7 linked regions of the Homo sapiens genome follow. The protein of the gene in region 1 purifies or fractionates together with the protein of each later gene. This does not show direct contact. Each region holds a gene or a part of one and is shown in the gene's direction. Other genes may lie near its edges.

What was found.
Region 2: the proteins of CLEC2D (region 1) and GPR50 purify together in Homo sapiens (affinity purification with mass spectrometry; 2 studies listed by BioGRID and IntAct, with this or other methods). This does not show direct contact.
Region 3: the proteins of CLEC2D (region 1) and DNAJC1 purify together in Homo sapiens (co-immunoprecipitation; 3 studies listed by BioGRID and IntAct, with this or other methods). This does not show direct contact.
Region 4: the proteins of CLEC2D (region 1) and ATP7B purify together in Homo sapiens (affinity purification with mass spectrometry; 2 studies listed by BioGRID and IntAct, with this or other methods). This does not show direct contact.
Region 5: the proteins of CLEC2D (region 1) and ABCB8 purify together in Homo sapiens (affinity purification with mass spectrometry; 2 studies listed by BioGRID and IntAct, with this or other methods). This does not show direct contact.
Region 6: the proteins of CLEC2D (region 1) and DIPK1A purify together in Homo sapiens (co-immunoprecipitation; 3 studies listed by BioGRID and IntAct, with this or other methods). This does not show direct contact.
Region 7: the proteins of CLEC2D (region 1) and NXPE3 purify together in Homo sapiens (affinity purification with mass spectrometry; 2 studies listed by BioGRID and IntAct, with this or other methods). This does not show direct contact.

The regions. Positions count from the first base shown.
Region 1 is NC_000012.12:9,696,883-9,700,680, forward strand, and holds the end of CLEC2D (C-type lectin domain family 2 member D), read left to right. Parts: 3' UTR 1-2,671; downstream 2,672-3,798. UniProt on the Homo sapiens protein: Receptor for KLRB1 that protects target cells against natural killer cell-mediated lysis. Inhibits osteoclast formation. Inhibits bone resorption. Modulates the release of interferon-gamma. Binds high molecular weight sulfated glycosaminoglycans.
Region 2 is NC_000023.11:151,175,237-151,179,805, forward strand, and holds the start of GPR50 (melatonin-related receptor), read left to right. Parts: upstream 1-1,347; 5' UTR 1,348-1,485; coding exon 1,486-1,672; intron 1,673-2,140; exon of another isoform or gene 2,141-2,600; intron 2,601-4,534; coding exon 4,535-4,569. UniProt on the Homo sapiens protein: G protein-coupled receptor that plays a role in numerous physiological processes including regulation of energy metabolism, neurite outgrowth or cell migration.
Region 3 is NC_000010.11:21,993,503-21,997,629, reverse strand, and holds part of DNAJC1 (dnaJ homolog subfamily C member 1 precursor), read left to right. Parts: intron 1-4,127. UniProt on the Homo sapiens protein: May modulate protein synthesis.
Region 4 is NC_000013.11:51,935,077-51,938,844, reverse strand, and holds part of ATP7B (copper-transporting ATPase 2), read left to right. Parts: intron 1-1,165; coding exon 1,166-1,369; intron 1,370-1,451; coding exon 1,452-1,569; intron 1,570-3,149; coding exon 3,150-3,252; intron 3,253-3,768. UniProt on the Homo sapiens protein: Copper ion transmembrane transporter involved in the export of copper out of the cells. It is involved in copper homeostasis in the liver, where it ensures the efflux of copper from hepatocytes into the bile in response to copper overload.
Region 5 is NC_000007.14:151,026,511-151,031,408, forward strand, and holds the start of ABCB8 (mitochondrial potassium channel ATP-binding subunit), read left to right. Parts: upstream 1-1,939; 5' UTR 1,940-1,956; coding exon of another isoform or gene 1,957-2,005; coding exon 2,006-2,100; intron 2,101-4,730; coding exon of another isoform or gene 4,731-4,781; intron 4,782-4,898. UniProt on the Homo sapiens protein: ATP-binding subunit of the mitochondrial ATP-gated potassium channel (mitoK(ATP)). Together with pore-forming subunit CCDC51/MITOK of the mitoK(ATP) channel, mediates ATP-dependent potassium currents across the mitochondrial inner membrane.
Region 6 is NC_000001.11:92,951,256-92,955,382, reverse strand, and holds part of DIPK1A (divergent protein kinase domain 1A), read left to right. Parts: intron 1-4,127.
Region 7 is NC_000003.12:101,799,543-101,803,669, forward strand, and holds part of NXPE3 (NXPE family member 3 isoform 1 precursor), read left to right. Parts: intron 1-1,692; coding exon 1,693-2,447; intron 2,448-4,127.

The DNA.
Region 1 (3,798 bases):
CACCACCTCATAAAGATATCTGCTTTCCTGTTTATTATAACACATCTTTATTCATAATAGCCAAGATACGGAACTAACTGAAGTGACCATTAACAGATGAATGGATAAAGAAATTGTCATATATATAAAACACACACATTATATACATACATACATATATATATATATATAAAAAATAGAATATTATTCAGCCTTGTAAAAAGAAATCCTGTTATGTTGGGAACAAGCCCCCCAAAATCTGGCCATAAACTCACCCCAAAACTGGCCATAAACAAAATCTCTGCAGCACTGTGACATGTTAGTGATGGCCATAACACCCACGCTGGAAGGTTGTGGGTTTATGGGAATGAGGGCAAGGAACACCTGGCCTGCCCAGGGTGGAAAACCACTTAAAGGCGTTCTTAAGCTACAAACAATAGCATGAGCGATCTGTGCCTTAAGGACATGTTCCTGCTGCAGTTAACTAGCCCAATCTATTCCTTTAATTCGGCCCATCCCTTCATTTCCCATAAGGGATACTTTTAGTTAATTTAATATCTATAGAAACAATGCTAATGACTGGCTTGCTGTTAATAAATACATGGGTAAATCTCTGTTCTGGGCTCTCAGCTCTGAAGGCTGTGAGACCCCTGATTTCCCACTTCACACCTCTATATTTCTGTGTGTGTGTCTTTAGTTCCTCTGGCGCTGCTGGGTTAGGATCTACCCGACTGAGCTGGTCTCAGCACTGTTATTTGAAACAATGTAAATAAACCTATAGGGTTTATTATATATACTAAGTGAAATAAGCCAGACACAGAAAAAAAATGTTGCATGATCTCACTTATAGTGAAACTTAAAAAAAAAACCCAAATACATAGAAATAGAGTAGAATGGTGGTTACCAGAGATGAGGAAAATACAGAGACACAGGTCAAAAGATACAGAGTTGCAGTTACAAAGGGTGAGTATGTCTAGATATCTAACATACAGTATGAGGACTATAATAGTATTGCACTGTGTACTGAAAACTTGATGACAGATTTTAGATATTCTTACCACACAGACAAAAAGAAATGTAAGTATGTGAGATGAAGCTTATGTTAATTAGATTAAGTGTATGTACATAAAAACATCACATTATACACATCAAATATATACAATAAAAAAGCACATTGGGAGATACATGATAAATTTCTATCTGCAGTTGCTATTTGCATTTTTAAAGGATATTTTTATTTTTTAAATTTTTAGCTGACAACTGTATAATTATGGAATACAATGTGATGTTCTGATATATGTGTACACTATGGAATGATTAAATCAAACTAACATTTCATCATCTCACATACTTATCATTTTCTGTGGTGAGAACATTTGAAATTTATTCTCTTGACAATTTTGAAAGATCCAATACACTATTATTAACTATAGTCACTATGCTGTGCAATAGATCTCAAAAGCTTATTCCTCTTAACTGAAACCTACTACCCTGTGACATGTGGGGAACATCTCTCTATTCCCCAGCCCCAGTCCCTAAATGTTGAATACACAATGGGGAAAAAATAGTCTTCAATGAATGGTGGTGGGAAAATTGTATATCCACATGCAGAAGAATAAAATTGGACCCTTACCTCCTACCATATATAAAAACCAACTGAAAATCGATTAAAGACTTAAACTGTAAAACTACTAAAAGAAAATATAGGGAGAAAGCTTCACAACGTTGGTCTGGGCAATAATTTTTGGATTTGACCTCAAAAGTAGATGCAACCACAGTGAAAATAAACAAATGAAATTGCATAAAATAAAAAATGTTTCTGCACAGCAAAGGAAATAATTAATGGAGTAAAGAGACAACTTACAGATTGGGAGAATATATTTCCAAACTATTGTTGGGGCTCAGAAACGGATACCCTAACATATAGTGATTTGACAGGTGGAACTAAAGAAGACTCGAGGTCTCTCTGACCTCCTCCTCAACCTCTGTTTCTTAATCCTCTGTTTTCCCAGAGCACAGGAGGAAGTTCTCTGAAGTTCCTTTATCTGCTTTAAGTTCAGACTCACCAAATAAGAAAACAGTTAATTCTGGTGCCTTCCATGGGTTTTCATTAACTGAAGTCATATTGTAGGAAAAAGAATGAAGTCTCTTAACCCACCTGGATAGATTTTTCTCACAAACCATTGTCTTCTCTGCAAGCCCAGTAGACTTTGTCCCAGGCCATTTATGTGATCTTCACCCCATTAAGTTCTCCCCAAATTATTTACTCTTCCCCCAAAATCACCCACACTTCCCCATCTCCCTCTCCCCTAAGGACAAGGGTATATCACCATCTATACCCCATTGCTTGGTGGGGTGATCACTCTGATTCTCTGCATGCATTTTTATAGATTTGTTTGCCATTTATCCTATTAATCTGCATTCTGTCAATTGTGGCAAGTTATCAGCATATTTTTTAACTTTTAATTATTCTTAATGGAAAGACACTTCTGTATACACTGGAAATCTCAGGAAATTTCTTTTTTCCTTAAGCTTAATTGAAATGTTTACTTTTCAGTAAAATTTCAAGCTTGAGTAATGTTCATGCCTGCTTTTCATTGAAATAGAATGAAAAGGTTGCACAATATTATTTTCATGAAATTACTTCTAGTATAATTCTGAATAAACACTTTGAAAGGCAGTGAACTGTAAATATATTACAGCTATCTCTTATTCTTCAGGGTGGGTCTCAATTATGTAAAAGATGATTGGCTTTCTGTTTTAAGTAATAGTCATTTTGAAAACACTTTAAAACTGTCAAGTGAAGTGTGATGGCTAATTTTATATGTCAACTTGACTGAGATAAGGTATACTCAGCAGGGAAAGCATTATCTCTGGATGTGTCTATGAGGGCTTTTCTGAAAGAGATTGATGTTGGAATCACTAAGCTGTGTAAAGATGATCTACCTTCACCAATGTTGGCAGGCATCATCCAATCCGTGCAGGTCTTACCCAAACAGAGCAAAAAGTCAGGTAGGGTAAATTTATTCTCTTCTAAAGCTAGGGCATCCATTTCTTTCTACTCTCAGACATTGGAGTTCCCCAGTTTCCCAGACCTTTGGCCTTACACTGAGAATTATGCTTTGTTTTATTTAGGCATATTTTAATAATACTTCATGTATTGGTCAGGAAGACATTTCCTGGTTCTAAGGCTTTCGACTCAGACTAGATTACAACACTGGCTTTCCTGGTTCTCTAGCTTGCAGAAGAGAATACTAGGAAGCTTGTACTTCCTACATAGGTAAGAAGAGGAAACAATCTCTGGCTTAGAAACTATGTAACCAACCACAATTCACAAAGATTCCATAATTTCCTTGGCAGGAGGCTAAGATCTAAAGCCCAATATGATTGTACTTCTCTTATCAGTTTTCTGCAAACAAAAGAGAATAGAACTAAAATACAGCTTTGTTAAAATAATGTTGATTCATTTGCATGAAATATCAGATCACAGAAAAAACATATTTTTATAAAATATGAGCTCTGTCACACTGGCCCTCATAGACACATCCAGAGATAATGCTTTCCCTGCTGAGTATACCTTATCTCAATCAAGTTGACATATAAAATTAGCCATCACACTTCACTTGACAGTTTTAAAATTAGGTTGTTTTTTCCAAATGACAAAAAGCAGGAGCAAACTGCAAGTGCTCCTGCAACACATCTAACAAGAAAGCCTTATCTGACTTTTATGAGGTTCGGTATAATGCCCAAACTGCATATTTCAAACTCTTGCCATCAGATTCACCTAAGAAGACAAAAGATCTATTGCCTTTGAACCTA
Region 2 (4,569 bases), on another chromosome or scaffold:
AGCCGGCAGAAATCCATTCCCGTGACCAAGGTTATTGAGGGAACGAGTGTCCGAATCACGCCCCTTTAGTTTTGCCCGAATATTCGAATTTTCCGTGGTCCCCGCGGAGCGAGATCCTGGGCGCACCGCAGGGGAACTGTGACGCACGGGGACAGAGATCCGCGGTGTGGAGGGCGAGGGGGGAGGCCTGAGAGGGATGGGGTCGAAACGAGAACCCCAGAAGGGCATGGGAAAGGAGAAAGACCGAGAGGAATCCTGACTGAGGCAGGGATCGCCGGTCAGCCAGAGGCTTCTTGGTTTAGCCGCGTGACACCTCCGCACCTTTCCCGCGGCTGCGGCGCAGCTCCTTCAGCCTTCCTGACTGCCCCGTGCCGCTCAGTAGAGAATGCCGAGCATCCCGAGAGGGAGAGGCGTCAGAGCCTCTCGTCCTGAGTTTCCTTGAGAAGCGGGGACCCAAGAGAAGAGCTTTATTGCCTGTTTTACTTTTTCCCAAAGCGTCCCTTGGCTTCCGCCGCCTGGCTGCCGGCAGCTGGAAAGGAGACGAGCTCCCGCTCCCGTTCGCCCCCAAACTGAGGACCGAGTGGCCACCAATGCCTTCCCTAGGTCCCAGGGTGCAGACCCGCTCCCCACTTCCAGAGTCGGGCGCAGGGTACATCTCTTTATGGAGAGTGCAAGACCTGGACCGGACTGAGCGGCTACTCGCAGCTGCCGCTAAGGGAGCCAAGAGGCTCCTGGCGAGAAAGGGAGCGGGGTTAAGTTCCCTAGGGATTAGGGACCCAGATTGGGGGTGGGAGCTCCCAGCAGTAGTCCCCTGTTCCCCGCGGGACACAGAAGGCTCTAGACAGGCAAGGGCATGGGGCGTGGGATGGACCTCACAAGGATACTTGCAGAGGCAAGCATCTAGCGTTCAAGGGGCCACCGGCTATCCCCTATACCCTGCTGGGGGCTGTGGACTGGCTTGGTCTAGCACTGGATCCTATGAAAGACTCTGTGCTCCGGCTCTGCAATCTACATCTCTTTGCCAGGTGTTTGCACTGGAGGAGAGAGGGAGAAGAACTTGCTAGAAACGAATGCACAGGGGCTGGTGGAGGGGGTGTGGGGTGGACTCCGAGCTAGTCATGATGCTTGCAAGGTACCTGGGAGATTGAGAGGCAGGGCAGGCTGGCTAGAGAGGAAGTACATACAAGGCAGTCGGAAGCAAGATGACACCTCAATGTGGATTTGTCCAATAAGAGGGGGTAGCCAAGGGGGGGGTATTCAGGGAGGTCTGATTGGTCGGGGGGAGGGATTTGGGGTGGGGCTAGCCGCCTCTTGAGGCTTTAAAAGCTCATCGGAGAGGGGCGGGATGCTGTCATTTGCTCTCTGACTCTCAGAGAGGGAGGCACGCTTTCCTGGAGCTCCTGGTGACAGAACAGGTGTTTGCTGTCTGGACCTGGCTGCTGATCCTGAGCCTGCTGGGAGATCTTAACGATCCCCAGGAGCAACATGGGGCCCACCCTAGCGGTTCCCACCCCCTATGGCTGTATTGGCTGTAAGCTACCCCAGCCAGAATACCCACCGGCTCTAATCATCTTTATGTTCTGCGCGATGGTTATCACCATCGTTGTAGACCTAATCGGCAACTCCATGGTCATTTTGGCTGTGACGAAGAACAAGAAGCTCCGGAATTCTGGTAAGCCACCCCTTCTTCTCCCTACCCAGTGTGCAGAGACTTGCAACCCCTAGGGCGTTAGTTTTTGAGCTCCCCGAATAGAGAATCTATGGACAGTGCCCTCATATTGAACATCCCTGCTCCCAAATTCCCCGCAAGCCTGGGGGTGGTAGTATTCTGTCCCGGCCCTCTAAACGTGGAGGTTCTCAAGGCCGAGAGAGCACAGAGAATTAGCTTTGGGCATCCAAGTACAAAGCGTTCCCGTGGTGCGCGGCAGCCCGAGGATCCCTGTCCCGTCGGGGCCTGATGCGGAGGGAGCCGGCACCCGAGCGGGAGAGTCAGGCGATTCGCCCGGGGACAGCAAGCCGAGCCGGACGCCGCAAGGGCGGCCGCGCTGAGGCAGCGCGGACCGAACTGACGCGGAGGGAGCAGCGGGGCTGCGACCTGCTCTGTGAAAGTTAAGTTCGCGGCGGCCGCGGCGGCCCTTACCAGAGCGCAACGCAGTGGCCTCTCCCTAGCCGGGCCAAGAGCCCGCTCGCCGCGGCCCTGGGGCTCCAGGACGGCTCCCGGGCAGATCCCGGGCGGCGGAGCACAGACCCCCGCGCCCGAGAATCGAGCAGGGAGGTCTGAGCCCGCCGGAGCCGAGCTCCGTCCGCCCGTCCCAGGGCGAACGGCAGAGAGAGGCAAGCGGCGGGTCGGGCACAGCAGGCGGTGGCAGCGACGGCGGCGGCAGCGGAGATCCCAAGGTCCGTAAGCGGGGAACTGGGGGGTCGCAGGGCGGGCCGGCCAAGAGGCTTGGGAGCTGGGCGTTGCTGGGGGTGGAGGGATAGAAGGCAGCAAAACCGAGTAGGGATTGGCGGGAGGGCGACGGGAGAGCTCAGAGGCGGCGATGGGGGACTCAGAGAGGCTGCAAAGGGCTGGGGTCTGGGAGCCGCAGGCGGGACTTCCCCCGCTGCTAGCCACTGCCGAGCGGGAGGAGGCCGGGGGCCGGGGGCCGGCGGCGAGCAGGGCAGGAGGGAAGCGTGGGAGGATGCCGGGCGCTGCGACCTGTGCTGGGGGTGGGGGCGGCAGACACTGCAGAGCAGCTAGTCCGGCTTACAGGTTGGGCGGGAGAGGGCTCTGGAAGGGAGGGGAAGGGGCAAAGGCGCCCAAACTCCGAGTTCAGGCCGGGGGAGGGAGGGGCGGCGCCTGGAATTTCCACCGCCAGATTCTCGATCGGCTGGGGCTAGGAGTGGGGACCGAAGGGGGTCTGAGAGGGTGGGGAGACCAGCTGGATTCTCCCGGGCAGGGCGTGGGGGAGAGGTGGCGGCCGGGGTCTGGGGGATTACTTTGCTTGGGCAAGGAGTCACGAACACTGAACAAGTTTAAAAACGCACTGACTGGCACACAGTCATTAAAAGTTTTCTTACAAAGTCTGGTGGGTGTCTCCGATTTCTCCTTCGTCTCCTGGAATCGTGGGGCCATACACTAGGTCTTCACCTTCACCCCCGCGGTGCGGTCCCGAGGTGCAAACCCACGGAATCCTGGGGGCGACCTGCGAAGCCCATTTTATTCCCTTTAGATTTCTTTTCTTTCTTTTTCTCCTTCTCCTTCCTTCCTTCTATAATTCAAATAAAGGCTTTTATGGTTGTTGTGGTTTTGTTTTTAAGGCTTTGCCCCTTCTCTTTTCGGCTGTATTTCCCTGAATTCATTACTCTGCCGGAAAACCATAGAAAGAACCTCTTCGGTAGAAAGTGCTGAGGCCGAGTGCTGACAGCGCTGGAGGAAGGAGGAAGAAGGAGCCATACCTTTGCCCTTTTCAAAAGCGCTCATTTTCTCCTAGTCCAAGATGAAGTGCAATATTTTGCCAAACCAATGCTAATTAGCAACGAGGTGTCTCCAAAGAAAGAGGGCTCTGCGCCTGCACCTGGCCTCTTCCTTCTCTTTTTTGTGAAAGGTTTTACAAAAAAGTTCCCACCTCAGCCCTACAAGACCGGAGTGGGGGTGACCCTTCTTCTCTATCCTGTTTAACCTGAAGGCTCCAGTAAAGTTCAGTGCCCGGCGCTGGGAGCTCTGTGCAGGGCGCTGAATGTGCCAGTGCGCGGCTCTGCGCGTGGACGTGGACGCGGCATGTAACTGAAACAGGCACTTCTGCTAATCCTTGCAGGATTTTTTCTCCTCCCCCCCACCCCCGCCCACCTCGCGCCACCCTTCCCGCCCGCCCTCTCACTACTTCTTTGGTCTCAGACTAAATTTTACAGGGCTTCCCTGCTTCCCCTCAGTTTTCACTCTTAGGTTACCTCGGAACGGTAAGTATTTGACTTGGCAAGGTTTTAGGTTACTGCTTGATCCCATCGGAAAAGACTGTTTAAGAAGATGGCCTCTAATGCCTTTTCTCAGAATCTTCTCTCTAGTAATGTGTTTATTATAAATGCAATGCTAGGCTATAGGAGGGAGATGGCTAATTTATCTTTTTCTAATTATTTAATTATTTTTAATTTTTTTAGTTTGAGGCTTCCTGACATCCCTCCAGTGTCTCTCCTTGCCCCCCACTCTCCAGCCTCCTTCCTAAAAACAAGTCCCTCTAGCTCACCTCTACTCCCCTCCTCCTTCTCCCTCCCCCTCACCTCCAGTGAAGGAAACGTTTGCATTTTGTTTTTCTCTAAGATGGTGGCAGCATGACCCTGTCTCATTGTGAAGGCTCCTGGCAGGGATTTTGTGCTCACTGCTGTCTGTCTTATGTTCGCTTCTTTCTCAGAGCATTTCTTTAAAAGAATTCTGGAATTATAAAAGGTCATAATCCAGCTGGCCTTCCCCTGCACCTTAAATGTGTAGATTTCTGTACTTAAACCACTTATTCTTCTCTGTCTTTCCCCTTTCTCCCTCCCTCGATATGTTTTTCAGGCAACATCTTCGTGGTCAGTCTCTCTGTGGCCGAT
Region 3 (4,127 bases), on another chromosome or scaffold:
GAACTTCCCTAAAAAAACACCACTGATCACTAGACCCATCTCTAACATCTTACCATGGCGGTGTGAGTTACCTTACTGGAGGGTGATTGCCTTTGCTCTGTTTTGCTTGATTAGGAAGAGCTGATCAGTCAGAAAGCTATGAGTAGTGGGAATCAGTCTCTTTGCACCTCTCTGCCCAGACCAGTAAGGCAATTATCCTAACCAGACTTACCCTTGAGCATACTGTCTCAAAGTCTAGAATGTAGAGGAGAGGGCACAAATTGCTAGCAAGCCCATTTGGCCATCACATTTAACCTGTATTCTTCAATAGCTGTATCAGTTATAAAGGTTCATCTCTTGTCTGCCCGACTCCTGTGTCCACTCAGTTTTTTGGATGGGAAAAACCAGTTAATGGGGCCTCCCTAAAGCCCATCACAGTCCTTTTTAGAAATGAAGATGATGATTTCATTCATGAATGATGGTGAATTTGTACTGTGATTATCAATTTTGTCCAGTGATTCTTGCAGTGGAATCCACTGAGCTTGTGGTGTTGAGTGTAGTTCAGTCTTTCTCTGTGGAGTCTATTCCTTTGTACATGTGTGTTGTGTAATAATAGCTTCCCCATTTTTATTGTAGAATCCAATTTTTTTTAATTTGGAGAAAGAGATACACAGAATCTAGAATGGTAGATAACCTTTCAGTCATTTATATTTCTGATGTAGGCATGCATAGCGTTAGAGCTGAATAAGTACTTGTTTAATTGTATACATCTTTGCATCAGATAGAATTATCATAAAATTAGTTTTCTTATGTACACACTCTTTTTGTGATATGTATAGTTTAGTGGAAGATGCCTGAGCCAATTTTATGGGATAAAGCAAGTCTATTGTGAAAATTTTGCCACATATAATCTAGAGCTGATGGAACAGAGACTTTCTTTTAGTTTTAAGTTTCCTTTTTCCTTTTATGCTATTCTCAGTTTTTTCTTTACACTAATTATGAGAACACTCTTAGAATATTGTATCTTTTGTTATTCATAGACAATAGCCTAAGTTGAACTGGGAAAGTGGAATGGCTTCTGCTATTACAATTATTCCTAGAAATATATTCTAAAACGTTATATGGGTTACCAGTTTACCTAGTGATTGGTTTAATGTGGTTAATTTCACAATCATATTTTGTTCAATGTTGAGAATAAAACAGAGGTTGAGGTTATTTGACTTGATTGCTGAGAGGAGAATTTATATGGCAGTTGTAAGTAATGCCAATAAAAGTTGTTTGATAAAATGCCTAGTGTCTGTAATAAACCTTTTCTCAGCTTTGTTATGCTCTCTCTCAGTGAACTGCTTATTCCATAAATGGTACTATGTGACTTTCAGAACTGTTTTCCACTGTGGGCATTATTGGGTCTGTTTAGACAGTAATGATACCAGTTAATTCCACCTAGTTGAAAACAATTCCAAAGCCTTTCTTACAGAGTTATACAAAAATAAAGGAAAGGAATTGCAGTGGAAAGAGAGATTTCTGATTGGATGAAGCAGGACCCTAGATCATTTTATAATGAAGTCACAGTCATATTTTCAAAAATCTTTATTTTCATCAAAACACTTAATTGTAAAAGATGGGCCCTATACTAATGAATGTAAAAATATGATTACATGTTTTAAATAACAGCATAGTATTTCATTTTAAGAACTGAATAGTTGATATTTGAGTATTACTTATATTTACTGAAATTTTTTGTCTAAGCGTGTCATAAGGACCTAATTAGAAATTTAATCTAGAATTTATGTTTCATTTCCCATCTTATGTAATACTAAATTAAGCAAGGTGAGGATTCATTCACCATATTTGATAAGTGTTTCTGATTACATCATCCAGCAACTGAAATCTCACATGTAACCAGGCATATTGCAAAAGCAAGGGCATGCCACGTTCTACATTTTTGTTAGAATATGTGTATAAAACAGTATACTTCATTATCAGATGGATGCCTGTTTTATTGCTACTGAGGCAGTAGGCATTAAGCTCTGTGCAGCTACACAGTTAACTAATATATTTGAGTTGCTTAATATTAAAGCTAATAATCTAAGATCAAGAATTAAAGGACATGCCATAGTATATGCAGCAGTGTTAAAATGGAGAAGAGCAACGTTAAGATGCCACTAAGAGCAAATACTAGAATTCTAAAATGACGTAATTTCCTTGGTTAAACACATTCTGGAATACATACAACTCCTGGTTATAGAAGGAAATAGAATTTTAAACTGTTACATGAAACTCAACTGTGGCCTGTATAGTGAGCAGTAGTCAAAATGAGTTATGACCAGAAAGAAAAAGATCATTGTTGCCATTTACTGGGAAAGTATGAATAGACCATGAAGAAATCTTAGGGTCCGTACACATGAGGAAGGTAGAAACTTCTTATTTCTAGTCAATACTTAAGGACTTTATTTATACCATTAAAACAGGTCAGGTTAAGGAATCTATTCCATGACCAACTGAATTTATACTTTAAAAAGAAACCTCTGACTTTTAGAAAATTTTTTTTAATTGCAAATCTTATTGGCAGTTATTTTCAATTACCACACTTTTCGTTAACAGATAAGATTACTATTTAGGTTCTTTTCTGACTTAAAGTGGTGCTTTGTATTGATAGTTGGTGATTAAGTTTGATTTGCGGAAGTTAACATGTATAAATATATATAATATATTAATATATAAGTATATATAATATAAATATATATAAAGTAGGAAGTCTGGAAATTGTGTTTTAATTATATCATACAATATTTCTTTATGGATCTTTTATATGTAGTAGGAAATAGACTTCTTGTGTGTTTTTTTGTTTGTTTGTTTTGAGACAGAGTCTCGCTTTGTCACCCAGGCTGGAGTGCAGTGGCGCGATCTCGGCTTACTGCAAGCTCTGCCTCCCGGATTCATGCCATTCTCCTGCCTCAGCCTCCCCAGTAGCTGGGACTACAGGCGCCCGCCACCATGCCTGTCTAATTTTTTTTTGTATTTTTAGTGGAGACGGGGTTTCACCGTGTTAGCCAGAATGGTCTTGATCTCCTGACCTCGTGATCCACCTGTCTCGGCCTCCCAAAGTGCTGGGATTACAGGTGTGAGCCACCGCGCCTGGCCAACTTCTTATGTTTAAAGCATTTTAGTTTAGACATTTGATAAAGTTCAAATGACAGCCATGTTGTGCAGTTCTATAGTAGTTTTACACAATCAATGAGTGACTTTTTATATCACACGTTTGGAAGTATATAAGATTTAACTTAAAGTAAATTAGATTGATTTTGCAAGTGTTTATTGTGGAAAGCTTCACAGTTTTTCAACATGCTGCTGTCTCTTAAAACATCACTGAAGCTTCTTGTTTTGAATTGCCTTCAAAGCTTGCTGCATATTCTTCACATTAGCCTCATTAGTAGTAAATCTTAAAGTTGGGTTTGATTTTTGGCTATAGCTAACAGTCATTTGGAGCTAAATTTGGTGACTAAATTAGGTTAGCAAGCTCGGATAAATACTTTGTATTGATAAAAAGATCTGAATATACATTTCATGTAATGCTGATAGACTGCCTTGAGGACTGTTCTCAAAGAAAAGTCCCAGAGAAGTTTTGAGTGATATTGACACAAAGTAATAAATCTGTAGCTTTACAAGGTAGTAGAAAGTATTAGAGCAAATGACTCTTGGACTACTTATTACTTCGTGGGTAGCAATTTTTTTAAAAAAAGTTTGCCCGCAGGATAAAAATGGGTAAAAAAAAAGTGATCTTAATTTTAGAGAAGTGGGAAAATATAGAGCTAGAAGAAAATATTTCAATTATCTGCCTGCTTTTAATATTAAAAACAAAGATCATGATAGTATTCATTATATATTTCTATAATAAAGCAAGTTAAAACCGAGTGGCAGAGGAATTAGAATAATGTTAGAGATAGAGGTAGTAGCTGAGAATACCACTGAGGAAGAAAGCAGGATACACATAGAAACGTATACAGAAAAAATGCATAAATACAAATATAAATGAAAATGGAGTAATATCTCCATCTTGTGGCCTTCTTTGGATATTGCTATTAAAAATGTTGAGGGGTTGTATTTTCACAACTGTAGGCATAAGTAAGAATAAAATATGAGACAGA
Region 4 (3,768 bases), on another chromosome or scaffold:
GGCGCATGCATCCTGGAAAAAAAGGAGTTCCAGGGTTCTCTAACCGTTTCCCAGTCTTTGCAATGGAAAAAAAAGTATGTGACCTAAGGGCTGAGATAGACATTTTCTAACCTTTATGTTAAGGGAAGATTTTGCCAGCTCAGCTCTTCTCACTGGGGTGCTCAGATAAGTGACTCCTGGGCAGTTCTCCAGCAGCCCCTGATGCTGAGTTTGGTCTGTGAGGACAGCACCACTGGATGGCTGCCTGACTTCTCACACAGCAGCGGCTCCAGTTTGGATTCCTAGAAATTATGCACCTCCAAATGTGTGCAGAGCTCTAGGCTTCTGAAAGCTTAATTGTGTTCCTTGAGGGAAGCAGCAGTACCCCTGTTTTCCATGGTCCTCCTTGCTAATTATGGACCTGTTTAGCGTCCTTCCCCCCTTTTCTGGCTAGCACTTGTTCATCTATTCAGCAGGCACTTACGAAGCACCACGAATGTGACAGGCAGGTGTGGGGCCAGGCTCTGTGAGGAGTGAAGGGGGGTCTGCCCTTGACGGGCTCATGGTCTTGCAGGAAGGTGGACCAGTGACTGTGTAGATCTGAGAAGCGGGAAAGGGACTAGGAAAGGAAAACTGCACCTTCCCAGGACAGAGCAGGCAGCAGGAGCATTTCCCAGGGGCACAGAGTAGCACGGCGGTTTGGAGATGCCGCGGGGAGCTGAATGGTATGGTCAAGTGTGGCACCAGCTGCCAGACCCTGGGACCCTGGGACTCTGGGACCCTCGGAAGCAGACCCAAGAGTTGAGCTGCCCTCCTCTGGGAGATGCATGGGGTCTACTGGATGTGAAGCAGGAGAGTAGGGAGGGACATGGCCGGACGGATGCTTTGGAAAGACCATGGGGGCAGCACATGGAGAAGACAGTTGGAGGACTGAGCCGTGGACAGGGAGACCAGCAAGGGGGTTGTTTGCACATCCAGAAAAGGACAGGGCCTAAACCAGTGCAGGGTGTTGGGGCAGGAGCCAGGGATAAACTGGCCCTGTGACAGCAAACCTGCAGGGTGTGGTTGACCAACATCACTGACTGGACCCAGAGGCCGAGGGCAGAGGGGGCAAGGGTAACTTGAGGTTTCTGCTGCTATCTGATACCTTTTGCCAACACTAGGCATTGCCTTCCTTTTGTCTTAGGTTGGCATCAACAAAGTCTTTGCAGAGGTGCTGCCTTCGCACAAGGTGGCCAAGGTCCAGGAGCTCCAGAATAAAGGGAAGAAAGTCGCCATGGTGGGGGATGGGGTCAATGACTCCCCGGCCTTGGCCCAGGCAGACATGGGTGTGGCCATTGGCACCGGCACGGATGTGGCCATCGAGGCAGCCGACGTCGTCCTTATCAGAGTGAGCGTGGCTGCAGCCAGGCTGTGGGTGCTGGGAGGGCAATGGGCAGACCCCTTCCTCACTGTGTGCTCCTCTCCATCAGAATGATTTGCTGGATGTGGTGGCTAGCATTCACCTTTCCAAGAGGACTGTCCGAAGGATACGCATCAACCTGGTCCTGGCACTGATTTATAACCTGGTTGGGATACCCATTGCAGCAGGTAGGCAGCTCTTACCCACTGTGCTCCAGCTGCGCCCAGAAAGGCTTCTGTCTCCCAGGTTCCTGCTGGGGTTAGTGAGTGGCTCACTCACTGGCTGGCTAGAGGCGTTTTAGAAAGGCTGTTTTTTTTTTTTTTTCATGTCCCCTGCTTTATATGTCTTTAAATGAGAAACTGTGGAGAGGACCTGAAACCTTCATTCACTCTGGTCCTTTCTAAAAAGCTAGTGGAGATGCTTGGCTGTATTTTCTGATCCCTATTTTATTGTGGCCTTATTTTCTGAGCCATTTGTTAAGTCATATAGTCTGAGAAATAATCATTAGTAAGAATTATGGGGCATCTGCTACATGCTAGGCACAATTATTGGTGTTTCAGAACCTTATCCTGAACATTAATCCTGCCCAAGTTTCACTCTGAGTTACACAAATGATCATGGAAAGAAATGGCTCTTTGACCAGGCATGGTGGCTCATGCCTGTAATTCCAGCACTTTGGGAGGCTGAGGCAGGAGGGTCATTTGAGCTCAGGGGTTCAAGACTCACCTGGGCAACATGGTGAGACTCCATCTCTACAAAAAATTTTAAAGTTAGCTGGGCGTGGTAGCGTACACCTTAGTCCCATCTGGGAGTACAGAGGCTGGGGCAGAAGGATTTATTGAGCCCAGGAGTTGGAGGTGGCAGTGACCCATGATCGCACCACTGTACTGTAGCCTGGGCAAGAGTGAAACCCTATCTCAGAAAAAAAGAAAAAGAAAAGAAATAGATTTTTCTGCTTTGTAATTCCCCCTCATTCCCCCTCCTTAAGAACCATCTCTCCCCCGCCCCCTGCTCCCTGCCCCCTGCCCCCAGGAACATGGCAATGAAAAGTTCCAGAGTGCTCCTCCATGGGCTGAGGAGAGATCAAGTTTGTAATCACAGCATTCCTGCCTCAGTCTCCCTTGTGTCTGAGTGGTTAGTGGTGACTTGTGTAACAGGGCCTTGGCTTCCTGAGCCCAGTGAGTCAGGCAGGTTTACTTCTTGTCCCCAGAGCCGGCTCAGGAGCTTAATTCCCCCAGTGTATGTGCCTCTGCCACACAAAGTTGACCATACCTGTCTCCTGACCCTGTCCTGGGACCTGGCTCTCATTCCTCTTCTAAAGATGTCATGAAGCCCTGGAGGCGAGATCATCTGCTAGAGAAGGACTGTGGCCCTCAGCCGTGTTTGTCCTCTGTGGGACTGTGGCTACAGGATGGGCAACTGGCTCCCTCAGCTCCTGCCGCTTTTCTCCTCCCGCTCCTCCCACTCCTTGTGGTTTGTCGCTGCCCTGGAGCTCGCCCTGAAATGGGATGCCACCTGTGGGTGGTTCTGGGAACATCAGGGCGAGTGGAAGAGAGCCAGGCCCACTCAACAGCATCCCACACCCAGCTTTCTAGGAAGCCTCACTTTGGGGGGGGCCTGTGGGCAAGATCCATTGGCAGGGGCTTCTGAGCACGCCAGGTGGAGACCTCACTGGGGGCCGCTGAGGGTGGGGCAGCCCGGTGCCTGAAGCCCTCTCCTGGCTCCTCTCCCCAGACCTAGGTGTGAGTGCGAGTTCTTTCTTCCCCAGGTGTCTTCATGCCCATCGGCATTGTGCTGCAGCCCTGGATGGGCTCAGCGGCCATGGCAGCCTCCTCTGTGTCTGTGGTGCTCTCATCCCTGCAGCTCAAGTGGTGAGTCCCCTCAGGTGGAGCATCTGTGGGAGGCTCCCAGGAGGCCTTGTCATTCTGCATGCTTAGCACAGTGGAACTTGCCTCTCATTTCCCATTCATTCACCTGGGACAAATGCTGCAGTGGCAGCCCACATGGAGCCTGGTGTGCATGCATGTAACTTATCAGCACCATGAGCAGGCAATTCACTGCTGCCCATTCACGTGCTGGGCTGCCCTTACTCTGCTCCTCAAGGGCTGTTTATGTGAACATCAAGCAGACATGGGTCCCTGTGTATGATCTATCACTTTTTTATTTAAAAAAGATGTTCACTTATTTATGAGTGCATTCATTTAACAAAAGTTAGTGGCAGCCTACAATGTGCAAGGCATTTGCTTAGGAAGTTTCTAAATCAGGTGAGCTTTCCTGGAACCATAGGGAGTTTAATGTCCTTTTCCTTGGAAACTCTTGAGGTTTTGATACTGAATGTTATTAAAAGATGGATGAGAGGCCTTCACCAGGCTTAGAAAAAAAAAAAG
Region 5 (4,898 bases), on another chromosome or scaffold:
AATGTCACTCAGTATCGTGGCTATTCCACCATAGTCACAATAGGACCCCCCCATACACCAAGAGCTCCCCAGCTCAACCCCAAACTAATCCTGGGACATTGTCCTACCTAGTTTCACCCTGAATTCATTCTCATTGACAGCCTCCCTACCACCACTCCCAATTCAAGTCGATTTATTTTAAAGGGCACTTTTCCTTGCCAAGCATTTGGAAGGGAAGAGGACAGATGAATAAAACAGAGCCACTACCCAAGAAGCTGCAGCCCAGTGGGGAGACAAATACGCAAACAAGTAATTACAGGGAAGAAACGAGTGGTGCAAACTCTTTGGCAGGAGCCTGAGGCAAGTCATTCTGACCCGGGTGAGGAAGGTATCTGCGAGGCAGACAGATCTGAGGCCGCGCCTTGATAAATTACAGGCCCTCCATACCAATAGTTCTCAATGGCTGAGGCGTAGGGCAAGAGTGTCAGAATCACCGGGGGAGTTCTTCCCCAAGTACACGTGACTGTGGGGAAAAGAAAGAGAGATCAGATTGTTCCTGTGTCTGTGTAGAAAGAAGTAGACATAGGAGACTCCATTTTGTTCTGTACTAAGAAAAATTCTTCTGCCTTGAGATGCTGTTGATCTGTAACCCTACCCCCAACCCTGTGCTCCCTGAAACATGTGCTGTGTCAACTCAGGGTTAAATGGATTAAGGGCTGTGCACGGTGTGCTTTGTTAAACAAATTCTTGAAGGCAGCATGCTTCTTAAGAGTCATCACCACTCCCTAATCTCAAACCACTCCCTAATCTCAAGTACCCAGACACAAAACACTGAGGAAGGCTGCAGGGACCTCTGCCTAGGAAAGCTAGGTATTGTCCAAGGTTTCTCCCCATGTGATGAAATATGGCCTCGTGGGAAGGGAAAGACCTGACCGTCCCCCAGCCCGACACCCATAAAGGGTCTGTACTGAGGAGGATTAGTAAAAGAGGAAGGAATGCCTCTTTGCAGTTGAGATAAAAGAAAGGCTTCTGTCTCCTGCTCGTCCCTGGGCAATGGAAATGTCTCGGTGTAAAGCCTATCTCTACTGAGATAGGGGAAAACCGCCTTAGGGCTGGAGGTGGGACAGGCTGGCAGCAATACTGCTTCTTAAGGCATTGTGATGTTTATGTGTATGCACATCAAAAGCACAGCATTTTTTTTTTTACCTTGTTTACGATGCAGAGACGTTTGTTCACGTGTTTACCTTCTGACCTTCTCTCCACTATTATCCTATTATCCTGCCATACCCGATAATGATCAATAAATACTAAGGGAACTCAGAGGCTGGTGCCGGCGTGGATCTTCCGTAAACTGAACTCCGGTCTCCTGGGCCCATTTTTCTTTCTCTATACTTTGTCTCTCTGTCTCTTTCTTTTCCAAGTCTCTCCTTCCACCTAATGAGAAACGCCCACAGGTGTGGAGGGGCAACCCACCCCTTCACGTGACAGATGTCCCAGCAGTTCTGACGCACCTAGGAGAGCGGGGTGGGTGGCAGGGCATATGTACGTGTTTTGAAAAAACTCCCAGTCGATTTTTGTTCATTCCTCCCCCAAAACCCGCGTTCTACACGCCCTTGAGACGACGGGACATCTAGAGATCCTGGAGCCTTGGGAAAATGGCCCGAGGTCGGCGGCTGACGCGTTACTATGGATACTCCATAGCTTGGAGGGCCAGTCGGGCCACACCCTTTGGACGTCACCCGGAGCCCACAGGAGCACCTGGCAAAAGCCAGGCCCACTTCCTGCTCGGCTCCGCCCAGAGCAGGGGGCGGGCGGATAGGCGATTCCCTCCAATCACAGTTCCAAAAGGAGGGGGCTGACAACATATCCTCCAATCACAGCTTGAAGTGAGATTGATGTGTCTTTTCACCAATCACCGCCAAGGCGCGAGGGGGTTGTCGGGATGGGGGCGGGAGCCAACATAGAGCCCTCAGTGGGATGAGGGTGAAACTGCTATTGCCGGCGGCTCCTGTTTTACCGCGTCAGCATGCTGGTGCATTTATTTCGGGTCGGGATTCGGGGTGGCCCATTCCCAGGCAGGCTGCTACCGCCCCTCCGCTTCCAGACATTCTCAGCTGTCAGGTAAAAACGGAAAAACCTACTCAGAGCGGGCCATTGACCGCCCGGCAGGGCAGTGCCGGCCCGCCGGGAGATGGAGTCCACGAGCTTGCGCGAGGCTTGCTGGGAGCTGTAGGCCAGGCCTACCGGGGTGGAATGTCACTCCGCGGGTGTTGGCCTCAATTATTTATAGTGACACTCCAGTCGCCAGCAGGAGGCTCCTGCGTCTGCAGCCGCGTGTCAGCCAGAAGGAGGGGACGCTCGGGGTCAGTGACCACGCCCAGTCCGCACTCCCGACCGGGGGTCCCCTTTCCTGGCCCTGGAGGTGATTGCGCGATTTGGACGAAAATTCTTATTAGTATGAAGAGACATTTAATGTAGTGGTGCTTCCAGGATTCAAAGTGAGTCGAAGAAGAACTAGAGATGTTCAGCAGGGATAAAGAGCCAATCTAATAGGCCGGGCGCGGTGGCTCGCTCCTGTAATCCCAGCACTTTGGAAGGCCAGGAGTTCGAGACCAGCCTGGCCAACATGGCAAAACCTCGTCTCTACTAAAAAATACAAAAATTTGCCGTGATTGGTGGCACGCGCCTGTAATTCCAACTACTTGGAAGGCTGGGGCAGGAGAATCGCTTCAACCCGGGAGGCGGAGGTTGCAGTGAGCTGAGATCATGGCCACTGCACTCCAGCCCGGGTGATAGAGTGAGACTCTGCCTCAGAAAAAAAAAAAAAAGAGTCAATCTAGTAACTTGTACATGTGTGTTTTTCGCAAAACACTCTACACAGGTTGGTCGAGAGAGAGAGACAGACAGACAGACAGATGGGAAACAAACAAGGACCCTGAAACTACAACTCGAATGTAAATGCTTTATGAGAAGGGACTGATTCCTTTTTTTTTCTTTTCTTTTCTTTTCTTTTCTTTTCTTTTTTTTTTTTTTTTGAGACAGAGTCTCGCTCTGTCACCCAGGCTGGAGTGCAGTGGCATGGTCTCGACTGACTGCAACCTCTGCCTCCTGGGTTCAAGCAATTCTCATGCTTCAGCCACCCAAGTAGCTGGGATTACAGATGTGCACCACACCCGGCTAATGTTTGTATTTTTAGTAGAGACGGGGTTTCATCATATTGGTGGGCAGACTGGTCTTCAACTCCTGACCTCGGGTGATCTGCCTGCCTCGGCCTCCCAAAGTGCTGGGATTACAGGCATGAGCCACCTCACCTGGCCATCCTTTCTAATCCTAGAGTGAATTACTTGGGGGCCAAACAGATAGAAGATTCCCAAGGGCAGGTGGATGTGGAGTTGTGTCATTTGGAAAGCCCATCTGACTGATGGAGGGCAAGAGCTGGATCGAGCTGGAGCTGGAAGTCTTGGTACTGGGAAGTAATCCACATGCTCTTGGCAACGACCAAGACTTTCTTAGAGTCTTAGTTTGGAGACAATGCAAGAAGCTGGAAAAAGACCATGCTAAATTATTGAAAGGTTTAAAAACAGTTCTTAGGAAAGAGTAAGGGTGTTGATGTTATTTAAACCAGAGAGAAACCCAAGGAAAGACATAAAATAATATTCAAGTATATATGTGTTCATTAGTCAGTATTTTTCAATAGATTATGAAATGCATTTAGTTGGTCAGGACCATTTAAAAGTAAATATAGGCTGGGCACGGTGGCTCACGCCTGTAATCCCAGCACTTTGGGAGGCCAAGGCAGGCGATCACCTGAGGTCAGAAGTTTAAGACCAGCCTGGCCAACGTGGTGAAACCCCGTCTCTGCTAAAAATACAAAAATTAGCCAGGCGTGGTTGCACGCACCTGTAGTCCCAGCTACTCGGGAGGCTGAGGCAGGAGAATTGCTCAAACCTGGGAGGCAGAGGTTGCAGTGAGCCGAGATTGTGCCATTGCGCTCCAGCATGACAGAGCAAGACTCCGTCTCAAATAAATAAATAAAAGTAAATGTAGGCCAGGCACAGTGGCTCACACCTGTAATCCCAGCACTTTGGGGGGCCAAGGCAGGCAGATCACTTGAGGTCAGGAGTTCAAGACCAGCCCGGCCAACATGGTGAAACCCCATACAAAACTTAGCCGGGTGCGTTGGCTCACGCCTGTAATCCCAGCACTTTGAGGGGCCGGGGCAGGCAGATCACTTGAGGTCAGGAGTTCAAGACCAGCCTAGCCAACATGGTGAAGCCCTGTCTGTACTAAAAATACAAAAATTAACCAGGCATGGTGGTGGGCGCCTGTAGTCCCAGCTACTCGAGAGGCTGAGGCAGGAGAATCGCTTGAACCTGGGAGGTGGAGGTTGCAGTCAGCCAGCATAGCACCACTGCTCTCCAGCCGGGGCAAAAGAGTGAGACCCTGTCTTGAAAAGAAAAGAAAAGAATCAGAATACATGTTAAGAATTAGAGAAAATGTTATTTTGTGAAGCATTTCCATTTTGTGTGGCATGTATGTGTTCATTGTACTGGGTTGCAAGTAAGATATGTTTCTTGCTGTAGGCCACAGTAAGTCTAAACATTTGCAAAACCCTGTAGTAGTTAGGTCAGATTGTCCTGCACCTCTAATGAGGGCATGCATGTGCTCAACAAGCATAAACATTTGCGGAACATCTATTATGTACCGGAGTTCTGCCAGTGCTGTCTAAGATATAATTTCCTGCCTTTCAGAAACACATGGCGTAATGGGAAAACTGGACAGTTACACAAGGCAGAAGGAGAGTAAGCGTCTCTATCTTTCTAATAGAAACAAGAACACAGTGGAAAACAAGACATAAAAACCTGGCAGTTGGAATGGGGTGGGAGAAGGCCTCATGTAGGCAAAAGGCACAGGCCTTC
Region 6 (4,127 bases), on another chromosome or scaffold:
TACATGTTTTACAGTTAATGAACTTACACTGACGTATTATCACCCAAAGTCCATAGTTTTACATTAGAGTTCATTCTTTGTGTTGTACATTCAGTGTGTTTGGATAAATGCATAATGACATGTATCCATCATTATTGTATAGAGTGTAGTTTCACTGCCTTAAAAATCTGTGCTCTGCTTATTTATCCTTCTGTCCCCACTGAGCCCCCAAAAGCCACTGGTCTTTATTGTCTCCATAGTTTTGCCTTTTTCTAAAATGTCATCTAGTTGGAATCACGTAGTATTTTAGGTAGCCTTTTCAAATAGGCTTCTTTCACTTAGTAATATGCATTTACGTCTCCTCTATGGCTTTTCATGGCTTAATAGCTCATTTCTTTTTAACGCTGAATAATATTTCGTTGTCTGGGTGTACCACAGTTTATCCATTCACTTACTGAAGGGCATCTTAGTTGCTTCCAGTATTTGGCAATTATGAATAAGGCTGCTACATAAACATCTGTGTGCAGGTTTTTTTGTGGAGTGCCCCAGTTTTTCATCTTGATGGATTATAGTATTATTTTTTATTCTCCATGAAAGTTTTCTTTTTTTGTAGCAGTTAGGTACATTTTATTGTTTTTATTTTTAAAAGTTGTTTCTAAAAGCAACACTATATCATCCTGTTAAATACCATCATTTTACATTGTCTGATTGAAGAGGTAAGGTGTTGTCGGCTGGGCACGGAGGCTCACGTCTGTAATCCCAGCACTTTGAGAGGCTGAGGCAGGTGGATCACTTGAGGTCAGGAGTTTGAGACCAGTCTGGCCAATGTGGCGAAACCCTGTCTCTACTAAAAGTACAAAAAATAGCCGGGTATGGTGGCATGTGCCTGTAGTCCCAGCTACTTGGGAGGCTGAGGTGGGAGAGCTTGAACCCGGGAGTTGGAGGTTGCAGTGAGCCAAGATCACGCCACTGCACTCCAGTCTGGGTGACAGAGTGAGACTCTGTCTCAAAACAAAAAAAAAAAAAAAAAAAAGAAAGAAAAGATAAAGTGTTAATATTTTTAACATATCCATTTCTTTTATTTATTTATTTATTTTTTTTTTTGTGAGACAGGGTCTTGCTTTGTTGCCCAGGCTGGTCTCAAACTCCTGGGTTCAAGTGCACCTTCCCACCTTGGACTTCCAAAATGCTAGGATTATATGTATGAGCTACTATGTCTGGCCATATTCATTTCTAGATGTTCAAATCATTTGCAAATAATTTTCCTTTAAAACTTTTTAATCTACGAAGTATGCGAGTTTAGAAAACCAGGATATTGCAATGTGCATGTTTTAATAACCCAAAATATTAGTAAATGAATTTATCTTTGAAAATAAGCAATTCCTTTTTTGTTGTTGATTGGGTATTTAATGAAATTAAATAGTTATCTTTCTTAGGTGTGATCATGGAATGGTGGTTATTTTTTTCTGTTTCATTTTTTGTTTTTTTAAATTATGGTCAAAAGCACATAAAATTTGCTATCTTAACCATTTTTAAGCATATAGTATAGTAGTATTAACTATTTTATGCACTTTGTGCAGCAACAAAGATCTGTGCAGCAGATCTCTAGAACTTCTTCATCCTGCAAAGTCGAAACTCTACCCATTGAACGACTCCTCATTTCCTCCTGCCCCTGGCCCTTGGTGACCACATTCTGCTTTCTGTTTCCATTAGACTGCTTTATACTTCATATAAGTGGAATCACACAGCATTTGTCTTTTTGTGACTGCCTTATTTCACTTAACATAATGTCACCCATGTAGATTATGACAGGATTTCCTTCTTTTTTAAAGGTGAATAGTATTCCATTGTATGTATATTCCACATTTCCTTTATCCATTCATTAGTCGATGAACATTTAGGTTGCCTCTACCTCTTGGCTATTGTGAATTGTACTACAATGAACATGGGAGTGCAAATATCTCTTTGAGATCTTGCTTTCAATTTTTTTGTATATCCAGAAGTGGGATTGTTGGATCACATGGTAATTCTATTTTTAATTTTTTTAGCAACCTTCATACTGTTTTCCAAAGTGGCTTTACCCTTTTACATTCCCACCAACAATACACAAGGGTTTCAATTTTTCCACATCCCCGTCTGCACTTCTTTTCTTTTTTTTTTTTTAAGAGTGACCATTCTCACGGGCGTGAGCTGATACCTTGTTTTAGTTTTTATTCACTTTCCTGATGATTAGTGGTGTTGAACATCTTTTCATATGCTTTTTGGCCATTTGTATATCTTCTTTGGAGAAAGTTCCTTCTTGATTTGTTGTTTCAGATTGATATTTATTCAACAGGGTTATGTGTTATTGTGAGCAGAGTTCCCCTTTCTTAAGAACAGGGTAAACATGTTTGAAGATATTCTTCCAAGAGAGATTTTAATGTATTAACAAGCTTCTGAATTAGTACATCCATTTCAGATGTAGCATAGTATCAGAGTCATAGACTATTATTAGATCTTAGAGCTAGTGCCACAAGTTTTACTCCCTGTCCCCCACTGCTTGAAAATTGGGACTCCTTATTTATTTTAAATCTAGAATGTTGATCAGGCTGCCATCCTATGTACCTTTCATTGGATCCTGTATTTTTTTTTAAAAAAAAGCCATAAAGGATTTTTTTTAGATTACGGGGAAATTTGAAAATGGATTACATATTGGATAGTAGTATTGTATCAATGTTAAATTGTGCTGTATGGGATAGTGTTCTGGTTTTCAGAAAATATAAACTGTAGTGTTTTTTTCAGGCAAAGTCTTGCTTTGTTACCCAGGCTGGAGTGCAGTGGCGTCATCATGGCTCAATGGTTCACTGCAACCTAGCCTTCCTGGCTCAAGCGATCTCCCACCTCAGCCTCCCAAATAGCTGGGCCCACAGGCCTGTGCCACCACACCTGGCTAGTTTTTGTATTTTTTGTAGAGACCAGGTTTCACCATGTTGCCCAGGCTGGTCTCGAACTCCTGGGCTCAAGCAGTCGGCCCACCTTGGCCTCCCAAAGTCCTGGCATTACAGGCGTGAGCCACTATGCCCAGCCAAAACTAAAGCCTTTAGGGTAAAAAGTATCATAATGTCTGTAATTTACTTACAAATGGTTCAGGAAAAAAATGTTTGTATATACATATACAGAAAGCAGGGTTTCTTAATCTCAGCATTATTGATATTTTGGGCTGGATAATTGTGTGGGACTTGGTGTTGCAGGATGTTTAGCAGCATCCATGGGCTCTACCCGTTAGATATCAGTAGCATTCCCCCAGTAGTGACTATCAGATATGTCTCCAGACATTTGTGTGTGTTTTTTTTTTTTTTAAAGAGTGGCCATTCTCATGGGTGTGAGTTGGTATTTCATTGTAGTTTTAATTTCATTTTCCTGATGATAAGTTGTCCTCTGGGGGGCAAAATCATCTACAGTTTAGAATGCCTGATACAGAGAAGGAGAGGGTGGGGGGCGGGGGAGTATTTATGTATATTTAGGAAGAGTGAAAAGGCAAATAAATTAGAACAATGTTAGCAGTTGATAAATATAGGTAGGTATAGGGTATAAGAGTATTCATTGTATTAGTCTTTTAAATTTTCTGTAGGTTTAAACATTTTCAAAATTAGTTTGGGGAAAGTAAATTAGACTGGATTTTATAGTAATTGAGTATGACTGGAAATGTATGAACTCTGTTCAAAGTTACATCTCTTAATAGAAAAATGAGATTTGACAGAGCATATTTGAAGTCAGTGATTAAATAAAGAGTATTAGTTTTCCAGTGCTCCTGTAACGAATTACCACAAATTTAGTGGCTTAAAACAACGCCCATTTGTTTGTACCCTGATCTCAGAGTTTTGTTAACTTAGAAGTCAGGGCACAGTGTGACTCAGCTGTTTCTCTGCTCCAAGTTTCACAAGGTTGAAATCAGTGTCACCAGGGCTGAGTTTCTTTCTAGAGTTTTGGGAATGATTCGGCTTCCAGATTCTTTCCAGTTGTCAGAATTCAGTTACATGTGGTTGCAGGACTGAGTCTCCATTTCCTTGCTGGCTGCTGGCTGAGGATTGTTCTCAGCCTCTAGAGGCCACCTGCATTTCATGGTTCATGGTTCATGGTTCATGTTTCCCTTTCTCCAACTTCAAAGC
Region 7 (4,127 bases), on another chromosome or scaffold:
AGCCTTCCGAGTAGTTGGGATTACAGGCGCCTGCCACCACACTCAGCTAATTTTTGTATTTTTAGTAGAGATGGGGTTTCAGCATGTTGGCCAGGCTGGTCTTGAACTCCTGACCTTGTGATCCATCTGCCTCGGCCTCCCAAAGTGCTGGGATTACAGGTGTGAGCCACCGCATCTGGCCTACTTCATTCTTTTATATTTGATTTCCACTAGTTATAATATTACTTTTGCATCATTAGGTGCATTCTTTATGGATTGTATCCTTCAAGGAATTGGTCCATTTCATCTGGGTTATCAAATTTATGGGCATAGAATTGTTCATAATATTCCTTTATTCCTTTAATGTCCATGGGATCTGTAGTGATGGCTTCTCTTTCATTTCTGATATTAATAATTTGTGTCCTCCCTCTTTTTTTCTTAGCCTGGGTAGAGGGCTTATCAATTTTATCAATCTTTTAAAAAACCAGCTTTGGGTTTCATTGATTTTTCTTTATTGATTTCCTGTTTTCAAGTTCATTGATTTCTGCTATCATGTTTATTATTTTTCTTCTGCTTATTTTGGATATTGTTTGCTCTTCTTTTTCTAGTTTGCTAAGATGTAAGGTTAAATTACTGATTTTAGGTTGTTTTTCTTTCCTAAAATATGTATAGTACTATGAATTTCCCTCTAAGCACTTCTCTTGCTTCATTCTATAGTGTTTAATGAATTATATTTTCACCTTCACCTAGTTAACATATTTTTAAATTTCTCATGAGATTTTGTATGTTACCCATTTGTATACCATTTTGGGATTTTTCCAGCTCTCTTTCTATTATTGATTTCTAGTTTAATTTCATTATGGCTTAAGAGAAGACACTGTATGATTTTTATTTTAAAAAATTTTTAAGGTGTATTTTATGGCCCAAAATGTGGTCCGTTTTGGTGAATGTTCCATGTGAGCTTGATATGAAGTAGTTTACAGATGTCAACTATATCCAGTTTATTGATGGTGCTGTTGAATTCAACTATGTCCTTACCGATTTTCTGCCTGCTGGATCTGTGTATTTCTGATAGAGGATTGTTGAAGTTTCAGACTATAATGTAGATTCATCTATTTCTCCATTAGTTTTTGCCTCACATGTTTTGATACTCATTGGTTAGGTACATACATGTTAAGGGTTGTTTTTTTTTTTGGAGAATTGACTCCTTTATTATTATGTAATGACCCTCTTTATCTTTGCTAACCTTCCTTGCTTTGAAATCTGCTCTGTCTGAAATTAATATAACTACTACTGGTTTCTTTGGATTAGTGTTAGCATGGTATATCTTTCTCCATTCCTTTACTTTTTTCTTGGTGTTTCTCCATCTTAGGTTGGACTGGGTGGCTCGAGTGGGCTGGAGTTGGATATTTCCCTTCTCTCAAGTTGGTTAGGCTCTGATAAAACTCCAATAGGCTAGGTTCTGATAAAGTGGTTTCTCTTGAGGGGCAGCTTTGTTAAGAACAACACAGTGCTCTGCATACTTCAAAATGGGTCCTTTTCCCTTTCTCTTCCCGGAAGCCCAAGGGGATTTTTCTTTGATATTCACTGTGAGAATCTGATTGAGCTCCTGGAGCTAAAACTCACAGAAGTGTGGGGAGCCCTCTGAATTTATGCCAAAATACAGAGACCTATTATAGTGGTAATTTCTGTTGTTTGTGTCTTCTTCTTCAGTACTTGGACCATGAGACTGTTTCAGCCACTTTCATCGACAGCAGTGGACAGTTTGTTTCCTCCCAGGTGACAGGAATTAGCCGAAATCCCTACTGTGGCTATGATCAGCAGACCCTGTCCAGCCAGGAGCGCATGGAGGAGGACTCCTTGCTGGCTGCCTTGCACCGGCAGGTTCCTGATGTGGGCCCAGTCCCCTTTGTGAAGAGCACTGACCCTTCTTCCAGCTACTTTGTCATCTTGAACTCTGCTGCCTTCTTTAAGGTGGGAAGCCAGCTTGAGGTGCTGGTTCATGTGCAGGATTTTCAAAGAAAGCCCAAGAAGTATGGTGGAGACTACCTGCAGGCCAGAATTCACTCCCTCAAGCTGCAGGCTGGGGCTGTGGGCAGGGTGGTGGATTACCAGAATGGGTTTTACAAGGTTTTCTTTACTTTGCTATGGCCAGGCAAAGTTAAAGTATCCGTATCTCTGGTCCACCCCAGTGAAGGGATCAGAGTTCTTCAGCGCTTACAGGAAGATAAACCAGACAGGGTCTATTTCAAGAGTCTCTTCCGTTCAGGAAGAATTTCTGAAACTACTGAGTGCAACGTGTGTCTTCCTGGGAATCTGCCCCTGTGTAACTTTACAGACCTCTACACTGGGGAGCCCTGGTTCTGCTTCAAACCAAAGAAGCTCCCTTGCAGCAGCAGAATTACCCATTTCAAAGGTGGATACCTGAAAGGTCTCCTAACCGCTGCAGAGAGTGCTTTCTTCCAGAGGTATGTACTGCTTTTTCTTGGGGATGATTTGAAGAGTTCTTTTCCACTGTCCTTGTCCCATTTAGGAGACTTTCTGGTATTCGGTATGTGTTTCTTACCTCTCTCTCAACTTGGCCCAATACAGAAGAGGTAGTGAATAAAAAAAAAAACATAGATTTGTATTTTTCATTAGTGTTTTAAAAATGAAGCTTAATGCTTATCTGAGTCCAAATTAAAGACCTTTTACCCTTGAATTTTTGTTCTTTACCCTCATATCTGTGTTTTCCTTTAGAACCACATAGCATGTTTACACAGTAGCTGTGTAAGTAAAATCCCTTATTCACAGAACAGATAGAAGTTATCTAAGGGTCAGATGTGGTGACTCATGCTTGTAATCCCAGCACTTTGGGAGGCTGAAACGGGAGGATCGCTTGAGCCCAGGAGTTTGAGACCAGCCTGGGCAACATAGCAAGACCCCATCTATTTTATGTAAAGAAAAAAATAATCCAAGAACAGGGCTGGTAGGGCTGGTAGTCAGGCTGGTGTTTTATCTTTGTATCTAATGAACTGAAACTTTAAAAAGTAACATAATAACAGTTTTTAAAATCATTTGAACCTACTGATTAAAAAACTATGAATATGGCAACATTGCTGGGTTGACTTAATAAGCATAGGAAGTCAGGAATACCACAGAAAACTATATTTTTTAAGCTAAATAGTTGTTGAAATTATTGCAGTATTGTGTTCAAATTTCTATTTCAAATGTAAGCTTAAAATATTTTCAGCATGATGAGAAATACATGGAATAATGTGCAGAAAGGAATATGGAACCAGTATGAATTAAAATTTGTGTTTTCTTCAACATTCCATAACATCACTAAGAAATAAAAAATTATAAAAGCTACATGGTTAAAAAGTACCATGCTGGCCAAGCGTGGTGGCTCATGACTGTAGTCCCAGCACTTTGGGAGGCTGAGGTGGGAGGAAGGCTGGAGCCCAGGAGTTTGAGGTTGCAGTGAGCTGTGATCACAATTGCACTACAGCCTGGACAACAGAGTGAGACCCTGTCTCAACAAAAAGTACAATTGTTTGAAAGAATGTATACATGTTTTTTACTTTTTAGTGAAATATATTGTTTTTAAACATTCCTTGGTAGAGAGAATTTTTTTGTTGGATAAAAGGGAGGTATTTTTGTTAAGGATATCTGGGCACCCTAAAAATTTCATACTTTATGTCCACTCATTACCGTATGGGAGAAAAGTTGCTACCATAAAGTATGTGGTTTGTAGGAGCTCCTAAAATAAAACTCTTCAGTTTTCCACCCTGAAGTCAGCTTTTGGTCATACCAGATTATGTACATATGTAGTGGGTTCATGCCATACTTTTAGAAGGCCAGCAGAGGGAGCACTACTCAATGTACAGTGTTTACTGTACTGCTGAGAAGACTAGTATTTTCTATGGCTCAGTACAAAATGAAAACAAAATTAAATTTCACAACTCCTCAAAACAAAACCAAAACAAAATTTTTCATTTTATTCGTGGGTTCAGGTTTCAGACATGCTATTTATTAGTGACTGAGCAGATTATTTTATTTCTGTGTACTTTTTTGCCTATATATGAAGACTACTCAATTACCCTATTTTAGAGGGTTGGTTTGTTTGTTTGTTTTGCAACAGGGTCTCACTTTGTCATCCAGGCTGG